Linked DNA regions of Homo sapiens: region 2 is linked to region 1. Evidence: fine-mapped expression QTL. A gene starts in region 1. The other region holds a variant in brackets. All regions are shown on one strand. Distances are from middle to middle.

What was found. PIP is the estimated chance that this variant, and not a neighbour inherited with it, causes the effect.
Region 2: its variant is the best candidate, but not a certain one, in a credible set for the expression of LINC01465 in testis (GTEx, PIP 0.74).

The regions. Positions count from the first base shown.
Region 1 is chr12:62,601,232-62,606,607 of GRCh38, reverse strand. LINC01465 (long intergenic non-protein coding RNA 1465) reads left to right here and starts at 3,174. Exons shown (of 1, transcript NR_121682.1): 1 at 3,174-4,857. MIRLET7IHG (MIRLET7I host gene) reads right to left here and starts at 3,865. Exons shown (of 2, transcript NR_186001.1): 1 at 3,773-3,865. It overlaps MIRLET7I (microRNA let-7i), which reads right to left and starts at 2,922; the gene lies at 2,839-2,922. RefSeq lists enhancers at 2,482-3,003, 3,004-3,525, 3,632-3,821, 3,902-4,011, 3,526-4,047 and 1 more and silencers at 2,852-3,151, 3,242-3,551.
Region 2 is chr12:62,643,382-62,648,757 of GRCh38, reverse strand. It overlaps PPM1H (protein phosphatase, Mg2+/Mn2+ dependent 1H), which reads left to right. Exons shown (of 10, transcript NM_020700.2): 10 at 122-4,764. The coding sequence ends at 269. Among named protein-coding and RNA genes, the nearest start is that of MIRLET7I, 42 kb to the right of the region's middle. The variant C/A (reference allele first, on the strand shown) is at 2,317.

The sequences.
Region 1 (5,376 bases):
TTGCTTTCCCCATGGTGCCCAATAGTGATAACCTAACAAAAACACTTAGTGAACTTCATTAGACAATCTTAGAAATAATTTTCAAATTTTTGCTTAATTATCTAGATTATCAGTAGCGCCAACAGCTTTTCAGAGTTTATGACAATGGTCATTAATTCTCCTTTTGGGTACTACCAATCTGGCCTAATTCATTTTCGAAGATGATTGTCCTATTTACCTTTTGTTGTAGAAATTACAGAGGGGATTATTCAGTGGGAAAGGAAATTAATAGTATCTCCTTTGTCAGCTTCACCATGGAGCGGGTGGAGTGTAATAAACAATAGCGGGAGAGAGCATGTAGCTAGGAAGAAATCTCAGCCTTTTTGGTGCTTTGTGCTTATACACTGAAGAGCTAATTTGTGCTGTCAGGTGCCTCTGTCAGGAATTCTTTGGGGACCACTCCACAAGACACAATGTCTTGAGTGCACCCTTGCCAGTCAGTCTTGCCTACCTGCCAAAAGGTTATTTTAAAATAGCTTGTAAACAAAGCTTTTCTATGTAAGATTAGCAATCAGGAATTTTAAAGTATGAAGCAAAACTGTGTTCTCCAAGAATCTTCTCCATATGGTGTGTCCTATATACCATAACACAGTCTCCATTTCCAATTGAGGATGACATTTATTAAAATGTTATTACCATAACCCAGCTTTCCTTTGGTTTAGTATGTACTTATTGAGAAGGGCACTCAAAATACTGCCTTATTACTTTCCACCAGTGGCTTTTTACAACTACAAATTACTTAAATGCTTGACAACAGACCTTTAACAAAAAAGTTAACTGCACCAAGTAAATGTCAATAATACTAAGTTCAGAAAGCTGTATTTTTGATAAATCAAATTCATCTTGTGGGAAACTGTCAACAAGGAAAATGTTCAGTTGGTAATTTTCAGTTGGTGTGTAGAGAAATGTAATTAGCAGATCATTTTTAAAACTGGAGATTAGAGCAGAAATATAGCTATGGGATTAAAACAAGTCAGCTGGTGGCAGTATTTTCTCTTGTAACTTAGGAAACAGTTAACCTCTCAAAGTACCTTTACATCCAATAACTCAAAAATGTTACTACTATTTGGGCAATATGTAGTTGTGGATAAAATTTACTTTAAAAACACAAGATATAAAGTATGAATAGTTTATCTGTATAGGACATTGAGCATTTCTGGTGTGCTTATCCGCTTAAAGTTTAAATTACCAGCAGAATTTGTTATACTTTGGGGTGCAGATTAACAACCGTTGATTCTCCATAAAAATGTTAGAGTGTAGTGGGTTGGAAGATTACCTCGGTTGGTTGAATGAAGTGTTTTGGAAAATAAAATCATAATGAAATTAGCATGTTATGATTAGTTTCTCCATAAACCAAGATTTGACACAGCACCGCAGAGGTTTTCATTATTTAAGAAAACAAGCACTTAACAAAGCCCTGAATTTACTCTGCGTTGCTATCAAGAAAAGCAAACTTCAAGAGCCAACATTCAAGCATTTTCTGCATCTTAAGATTCAAGATAAGGTTCTTCACCGCCCTTCCCACAATGAGGCGGCTCCATCCTGATGAGATCAGATTAAGTAAGGTTATTCTCAAGGCTAAACCAAACCCAATCAAGGCACATATATTAGATCACTTTTGAATGATAAAAGCATCAAACTCCTGCTGAAGGGTTTGGTTGGTTTAAAGAACTGCCTTATTTGTTTTTCAACTGAGCATCAGAAAACCATAGAAAACTGCGATTACATTATATTCAAAACTACTTATTCTGTACAAATACAGATCAGTTTTCAACGAAAAGTACTAAAACTGACCACTTACTTCCCTCAGTGAAAATAAAATAAAAATACAAGTATCTTGTTTTCCACGCAGACTTCAGGGTATTAGAGCACTGAGTATTTTCATTAGTTATCCAAACTACCTTTTTTCTCTATGCAAAGGTATTTTCCTATTAGGAGTAGTGGCCACTCAGGAATCAAAATGAGTGTTAGTAGATTTTAAACTCAAATCTAGAAACCACTTTCAATTCCTAGTCCTCTTCTCCCATACAAAACCTCAAAGATGTAAGTACCACATAACATTAGAATCAAAGGCCATAAAAACCAAAAAACCAACCCACCACACCAGCAGAATCTGAGCCCCAAGGTTAAACTAAAAAGAAAAAACAAAAAACAAAACCATTCACAGCACACTGTACATAGAATTTATTTGTTTGCCTCATACATTAAAAAATCGGAATAGTGCAATTACCTACAAATAATTTCAATCTTCTCATTCGCGAGTTGCAAAGTTTAAAGAGAAACTTTAAATTGCTTTGGGTTTACGTTTTTAAAGACACACTCAGATTTACTAAGAGAGCATATCAGAAACCAGATCTAAAATGTTAAGGCATAAACTTTAATTATCAGGTCTACTTCTTCTGCCCCTCTAATGCCAGTTCTGCAGATCGCTCACACCACTCCAACCTACAGCTAAAGAATGAAGTAAAACAGGTACACACTAAATTTGGCATTTAACTGCTGAAAGAAGTGTTAGAATTTTTTAGGGTGAAAAAGTTATCTGTATCAATTATCTTACACAATTCCACTCCTTCCTTCAAGAAAAGGAATCCAATGGCTTAGCTCTTTCCCAACCTTTAAAATGCATCGCGGTCCACCCCACTCCCCTCAATTCCTTCTAGGAAAATGTGAAACTAACGGTTTCCGTGGTGGCCGCGCCGGCCGGGCGCCGAGGCTTCGCGGGCTGTCCCCAGGCAGCGCCCCGGAAAACAAAGGGGATTCCCAGCCATTGTCCTCCGCGGCGCTGAGCATCACCAGCACTAGCAAGGCAGTAGCTTGCGCAGTTATCTCCACAGCGGGCAATGTCACAACCCGACCAACAGCACAAACTACTACCTCAGCCAGGGCCATGGTGTCGGGGAGGCACGGGACCACGCGGAGGGCAGCAAAGCGGCTCCGGCGCTCCTCCGTCCTTCCTCGCCGCCGACGTCGGCCCGCCGCCCCTTCTTTTCCTTTGCCTTCCCCCCGCGCCGCGCCCGGAGACCCCGCCCAGCACCCAGCGGCTCGGCTACTCCCGGCGCGCCCCGAGAGCTACGGGGATGAGAGGCGGCGCCGGCGCCCGGGTGATACAGCCGGCGTTCTGTACGTCAGCCACCGCTCTGAAGAGAGAAAAGCGGCGGTGTCCTGCGGAGAGAGCCGCTCCCTCCACTGCCCGAGGGGAGCGCGTCGCCTCAGCCGCTCGAAAGCAGGAAATGGGCGGCAAAAGCGCAGTCAGACACCAACTGGTTCTGGACTGCCCCCGAGAGGCAGCGAGCAGCGCTCCCGCGCTTCGCCCGCTAGGAGCTGCCGCCACGTCCCGAGCTGCGCCGCTCGCGCCCCTCCCTGCTCCGAGTCCCCGGTGGGGGCTGGGCTGCGGCCGAGTCCGGTACCCGGGCCCCCACCCGCGCCGCGCTGTCGAACCCGCCGCCGGCCCGCTCTCGGCGCCGATAATCGCCGGCGGGCATCCCGCAGAGGCTGCCGCCGGCTCCGCCAAACAGCAGCCAAGGCATAGCCGGGAAGTCCCCAGGCCACCCGTTCCCCAGCACCCTTCGGGGAATTCCCGTTCAGCTCTACAGGAGGCGAAAACGGAACAAACGAAAACCCCTTAACAGTGAAACCGGGCCCGGCGATGGCCCGGGTGGCGACTGCGACGACTCGACGCGTGCGGACACAAGACCCGTCTCGCGCTCCGCTGCTCCTGTGCGTCCGGACGAACCTTAGAGATCACTTAAGGAGGCTCGCGCGCTACTCCTCACCACGTGACCGCCCCGCCAGGCCGCCCCCCGCGCCGCCATCTTACATCCGGGACAGAGGCGGCGTCCCCTTTCCCTGCCTTGGCAGGCGTCAGCGTGCTACCAGAAATCAGCCCTGAAAGAGGGGACCCCGATTCCACGTCACCAGAGTGCTGAGGCAGCGGGCGATGCCCTCCATCGGCTCAGCGGGGGGGAGTGGAGTCCCAAACTTTTTTCGGCCTTTGCCCGCAAAGAAGATGGCGGCGCATATCGCCGCCTAAGCGGACACGTTGTACCCTGGCCGTGGTTTGAAGTTTCCGGCACCTCCTTTCCCAACCAGCAAGGACACAACCATACGAGCCCCACCCACGCGGGGTGGCTGCCGTGCTACATTCCGCAGAAAACAGGCGGGAAAGCTGCGGCACAGCCCGCTTTAAACGCAAGCTTTTGGGACTTCTGGTTTTGGCTTTTTCTTTTTAAGCCAAGTTAGGGAGAAGGCTGACTGCCATGGAGCCACTTCTGCTTTTGGCCCAGACAACTTACGGGATTTTTTTTTTCCTCCCATTTAGAGATTTTTTGTAGGAAGTTAACAAATTATTTTAAAGAAGTAGTTAGGGCTTGTCAGATAAAATACAGGACGCCCAGTTAAATTGGAATTTCAGATAACCAGTGTTTTGGCATATGTGTGTTACATATATTTTTAAAATTGTTTATCTGATATTCCAATTTAACTGCACATTCTCAATTTTTAATGACTGTATCTGGCAACCCTATCAGCCTTTACCCCTGAAAATCCAGACTGCTTATGACAAAAGTAAGGAATGGAGGGAAATGAAAAGCATGTTTACCTACAACTTAGAATTGTCTTTGCCCAGACTTTGATCCTTCATGGAGGCCAGAGGGCCGTGGTCTAGAACAAAATTTGGCAGCAACTCATAAAGATATCCTTGTATAATTCCCTTTCTGGCAAAGTAAGATTTTTTTTTTCTTAAGCTATCACGATGTAATTTTGGACAACAGATCCTCTTGGCCAAGAGTTTAATTGCAAATTAAAAATTAAATAACTGGCTTTTTGTTTCTATTCTACATGGTATAGGCGATGGGACCCAAACAATTTCTTAAAGTAGAAGTTTTCAAGTTAAAAATCAGCCTGCCTGACATATTTCATAAGAACATTTTTAGGTGCATATTCAGAAACTATTTCCAATTAAGAATATTTGTGTAAACATAATACATTTGCAGTTAAATGCTTTACCTGACAAAGCATAAACTCACCTATCAATCACTAAGCATAAACTCAAAGCAAAAACTCAATCACACCATAAACTCATCTATCAATCACTTACCAGAAAGTCTGTAGAAACTTCACACCATCCTTCCTTGATAAGCAAAGATTGGACTGCCATGGGAATCAACCCTCACTGCTCATTGACTGCGCAGTGGATCAGATTATTCTGTACCAAAGCAAATGTCCTTTGCCATAATGGCACAGATTTTTAAATGGCCACTAAACACCTGTTTGGTCTATGGTATACAGATTTGTTACAGCAGTAGTTTCCAACTAAATTTAGTCATTATACTACTTTAT
Region 2 (5,376 bases), 42 kb before region 1:
GTAAGTGTATTTGAAACTTATTTATACAACTGTAGTGATGCCTCCCCCTTCCCAGCCTCACTTGACCCTGGCTTCTGTCTGATGCTCTACTGACTGTCTCGTTCCTGGTTCTCCTGTGTAGGTACACACTGGCAGCTCAGGACCTGGTGATGCGTGCCCGGGGTGTGCTGAAGGACAGAGGATGGCGGATATCTAATGACCGACTGGGCTCAGGAGACGACATTTCTGTATATGTCATTCCTTTAATACATGGAAACAAGCTGTCATGAAAATGGCCCAGGGGATTGGGAGGACAGAGGGGAAGAAAGCTGGGATGCCTCTTGGCAGGACGGAACTGGGAAGTGCCCCAGCTGAGTTCCAAGTGATGCAGTCTCTTCCCAGCCCAAGCGGGGAGTTCATGGCCAAAAGACTATGCTTCAAGATGACCCTTTGGTTTCCATTTCTTCTTTAGTAACAGGTCAACTCAACAAGAGCAAAACACAAAGGCTGCTACCAAGTGTTGTTGTATTTCAGTTCCTTTCATAGGCCTCCGAGGTGGCCATTGACTATTTGGGGTATATATGTCATATTTATTTTATCTAGAGTAGCTGGGGCAGCCATTTTCAGGTGTAAATGGCAGAGGACTCTTCAGCCTGTCAAGCTGCCAGCTTATCTACGGGTTAAAAAGTGCTGCATTGGAAAGTAGGGGGTCATGCCTCAAAATGTAAGTAAGTGCCCACCTTCTAGGAAGCCTGAGGTTTATTTCAGGGATTGCCGTCTGCCCCCCGCCCCCCTTCTCTTTTTTTCTTCTCTGTTTCTATTCTTTTATGGCAGTGGTGGAGTGAGGCAGGGATTTTTTTTTTTTTTTTTCGTGTTTTTGACATTCCTTGAATCTGTTTTTTATTCCCCTTCCACAGAACAGGCCTGGGACTTTCCAACACCCTGCTAAGGAAGTTCTGTGTCCAAGTCCCACCCAGGCTGGGTTGTCCCCACCTCCTCCAGCCCACACAGCCCAGGCAGCATCCGGGCCAGTGCCCTGCATGACAGAGGGTCTTTGTTGTGTAATGTTTGTTCCCAAGTTGCATTTTCTAACCGAATCAGTGTGTTTTCATGAAACTGAGTGTTTCTGTGGACCAGTAGTTCCTCTGTTGTCTTCAGTGGTCTTCCTGTGTGGCTCAAGGGTTCTCTGTGAGAGTCTGGATTTTCATTTCTGGAATGGCTGGCCCCATCCCACTTTTCTGTATCATGGGGACACATATAAAGCAGTGTTTAATAGAGCAGTTTAAGAAGTTGCTTGCATCTGTTGGTTCACCATGGCTCATCTGGGGACCATTTTGGATTCATGTTTCATGGCTTGTGACTGTCCCCAAGCCCACTCCAAACAAAGTGTAAGGATCAGAGTTCTGTCAAGGAGCAGCAGTTCTGCTCTCCCCATCATCTTTGTGCAAGGCCCCTCGGGGGGCACTTTAATAAAAGAATTTGAAATGGGTTGACTGGCCATTCTCATGCTGTGCTCCCTGTCTCTTCTCTTCTCTAAAGAATCATGTCCCAGCTCCTCAAGGTCCCTCTATGGTTCCACATCTGAGTGTTCGCCACAAGAGCAGCAGCAGCAGGCACAGTGCATGCCATATCTACCTGCTGCTTCTCTGCTGGGAGGAATGGCCAAGTAGATTATAAAACTCACTTCTGTCTCTTAGGCAGACTTGTACGGCCACAAAATTACCTAGTCTTCTTCCTGCTGAGCTACTGAGGTATTGCCACCATTTTGACAACTTTGAGTAATTAAAACACTCTTCTGACCCAAAAAGGAAAAAAGGTCACTGACGTGACCCCCCCAGCATGCTAGAGAGCTAATTCCAGTTCTCATATTTGTTTGAATTTCTTCCCAGAGGAGAGGATAGGAACCTCTCCTCCAGGGCAGTAAATCACCTGCATTTCTGGAGTTGTCGGTATTGTATTCGAAAAGGCCTGGAGCCCCTCCTGCTCAGGAAAGAACTCATTCCAGGGTGTGGAGACAGTGCCGTCTGGCAGGTGAAATACTGTGGGAATTCACGCCACCAGGTGTTTGTGCAAGTGTTGGCCTGGGAAGAATGGGACTTCGGCCTTGTCAGGAGTTGTCTTCATCTGCAGCACGTTTCTTCCTCCTGCAGTAGATCTTAGCTACCCCAGATATCTCTATGGAGAGAAGTTTGTGGAAAATGCTTTGCTTCGTGGCAGAGTCTGATGCTGTAGGAAAACCTTCGGGCATGTGACAGCAGTGTGGTCCACTCCCTGTTCTGCCCTGGCACTCAGAGTCATGTGTAAGTAGGAAACCTGAGCAAGTCTTCCGTGGAGGAC[C/A]CTGAGCTGCCGTCTTTGGGATCCTTCCTGTGTCCCCACCGTCTTTCATTTATTTGCTTTCCTGGGCCTCTATCTGGGCCCTACCTTGAGCTTCTCCAGTTTTATTCAAGCCACCAGAGTAAGAATTTGGGTGTAGATGTCACAACTACCTTCTACTCAATTCACCAATTCATTTACTGCTATGGCACGTCTCAGGAATAACTCTAGAAACCTCTAAATCGAAATATTATAAAATCTTGAGCACTTAGTCCTGCTGGTTTTAGTTAGAAAGGCATCCAGGAATTGTTTTCCTACGCCCCCTTGAGTGGAAAGATCTTAGTTAGAAGATAAAGTCAAGTTTGTGTTCAGGGGATGGGAGGAAGACTATAAATAAGATGAAGAAATCAAAAGTAGGAAACATGATGTAAACGAAGCATGGCAGATCTGTCCAGCACTGATATTGCTCTATAAATTGAGCTTACTCAGTTTTGGCCTTATTTTTTTACCCAGGCCCCATGTCACCCAGTCCTAAAACAGTAACCGTGTCTACATAACGGGTTGGCCCCTGGTGCATCCCTGGAAAAGTCAAAGGACGCACACTTCGAAATTCTGCAGAACGTATTTATACATGGTTCAGAAATCTTGCGTATCTGACTTATAGCCAAATCTGCTTGCTCGAATAGCCTCAGAGGAAGTCTTGTTTAATAAAAACCTTTTGATTTCCTAGTCAAGTCTTTATGGTTGTCTCGAGGGGTGTGTGGCTACTTTAATGAAAGGCTTTCCTGCTCTAAATCTCTTTGCTGGGCTGGGCCTCTTCAGACTATCTGGTGAAACTCCTTTCCTTAGAACAAACTCAGTCCGTCCATGCTCTGTGGCATTTTGCTAGATGATAACCAAAGCCTTATTCCTGTAGCCAGTGTCAGCAGTCAGAGAGGTGGAGGGTGTGTTCTGCTGTGGTTATGCATACCTATCTGCTGTTCTTGAGGTGTAAAAGGAAAGGTGAAAATCGGGCCAGGCCAAGTACTCAGCTGTCTTAATAGGATGAAGCCTTAAGCAGTGGAAATTTCAGTTATTTTCCACAGTATTCCATTTTGGAGGATTTGGGGTGTTTACTTTTTAAATTCTTGAACAACTTAACCTCCATGAGGCTTTGTGAAGTCAGCTGTGACCACCCTCCTCTTACTGTGTTCTCAGTATTCATTCACTTCCAGGGAAGAATGACAGCCACAGGGAGATGGTGGTGGGCAAGAATGAGAGTCCCAGGATCCAGATTTAGCCTCAGATCTTCCCCATTCAGGAAGGGTTTTCCATTTAACAAGAGCACTAGTATGAAAACATTAGGGACAAATCTCCCATGTCTTTGAAATTCGGATTCTCCTCTTGAGATCCCCTTCCTCACCTGCCAATCAACTTTATAAGGCCACAAGTGGTCACTGGTTTTCCTTCCACAGGTTTGAGGTTCTCAGCTTTCCTTAAGCGACCCAGCAGCTCCGCTGTTTTCAGAGTGAATATGTTAAGCTTTGATGAGATTCTATTTTCAGTAAGTTAGTGCTTCTGGGACACTTGGAGAAAGCTGTGAGAGTCATTGTCTACGCAAAGAACAACGAAGCTGATCCTAAAAGTGATCCAATCTAAGAAAATGGTAAAACGAGCTCTGGCCACAGCACAGAATTTTATGTGAGGAACTCAGATTTTTGAAGACTTAACAATTGCAGAGAAAGGTTGCAGCCTGCACACCATAGCCCACCTCTCTGAGCAGACTTTGGTTTTGTGTGGTGACGTGGCACATGTTTGTACACTGGGATTTTTCAAAGGACGCTACGCGAGCAGACTGACTTGCCTCTTCTGTGAGCACTGTGGCTTTTGTCAGATGGAGTGCCGGTCTGCAGAGGACTGCTCTTTCGAATCCACAGTGTTATCTGTGTAAATAGCTTTAATTTTTCTTCTGTGTCTTAGGTGAAGTTTTGTTCATGTAGCAACCAGGTAGACAGTGACCAAATAAGGCTGTAAATGTGCTGTAGTTTTCTACTGTGATGTACTTGAAGGAGAACCTGTGTCCTCTACTTTTCTGATCTCCCACAAGTATTTTGTGTTTGTTTCCTGAGTCCTGAGGTTATTATTTTACTCCTGTTTTGCCCCCAGTTTTCTTTGTTTTTTTTCTGGAGACCCAGGGAGGCCCATGGTGGAGATCATTTGTAAGGAATGGATCATGGTCTGGGTTTCCAAAACTACCCTAGTACAGTGAATGAGAGAAATCTGCCTGGAAATTGTTTCAGAACCATGTACCTTTATGCTTTGTGATTGTGAAACATTGACTTTTTTGTAACCCCAAAATGAAAACTGTTTAGTAAAGGGGATCTATTTTGTGTGTTTTGAAACTTAGGTGCAATGTCCCCTGGAAAAAGCTAAAGAAATGTATATGTTCAATGACATTTTAAAATAAAATATTATATATATGTATATACGACATATTCAGCAAAACTTTTTTCTGTCTTTTCTATGAATTCACTGTGAAGTTTCTTTGTATCAGGTAATGGTCTGTCTGGTTTCTTTATATCAGGTAATGATAATGATACAAAGAGTATCATGGCTCAATGTGAGATTATCAACTGTGAACACAGACTCGAAATCCAGAGGGAATGGATGCCAACACTATAAGCCTTCACAGGAATAACAGTAAAGGCTAATACATTTCAACTATGCCTTTGGATACCATTATTACCATGGATACCATTAGTAAACACATGAATAATTCAGAGAAAAGAATTACTCCCAAGAGGTATTCTTAAGTGAGAGGGCTAGAGCCTAATCTTGCTGAAGACAGTAAGAATCCAGACTTCCCTTCATCGCTTAAGCATTTTAAGTATGTACTTACAAAGGGTTAGTAAAATGTACCATCTTATAGAGGAAAGTTACTGTGACAGGTGGGATAAGGCATCAGAGCATGCTAATTCTGCTTAGTTCTAAAATCCAGGAAGTTAAAAGTAATCTATAAAATACCAACAAAATATTTTAAATGACCAGGCATGGTGGCTCATGCCTGTAATCCCAGCACTTTGGGAGGCCAAGCGGGGAGGATTG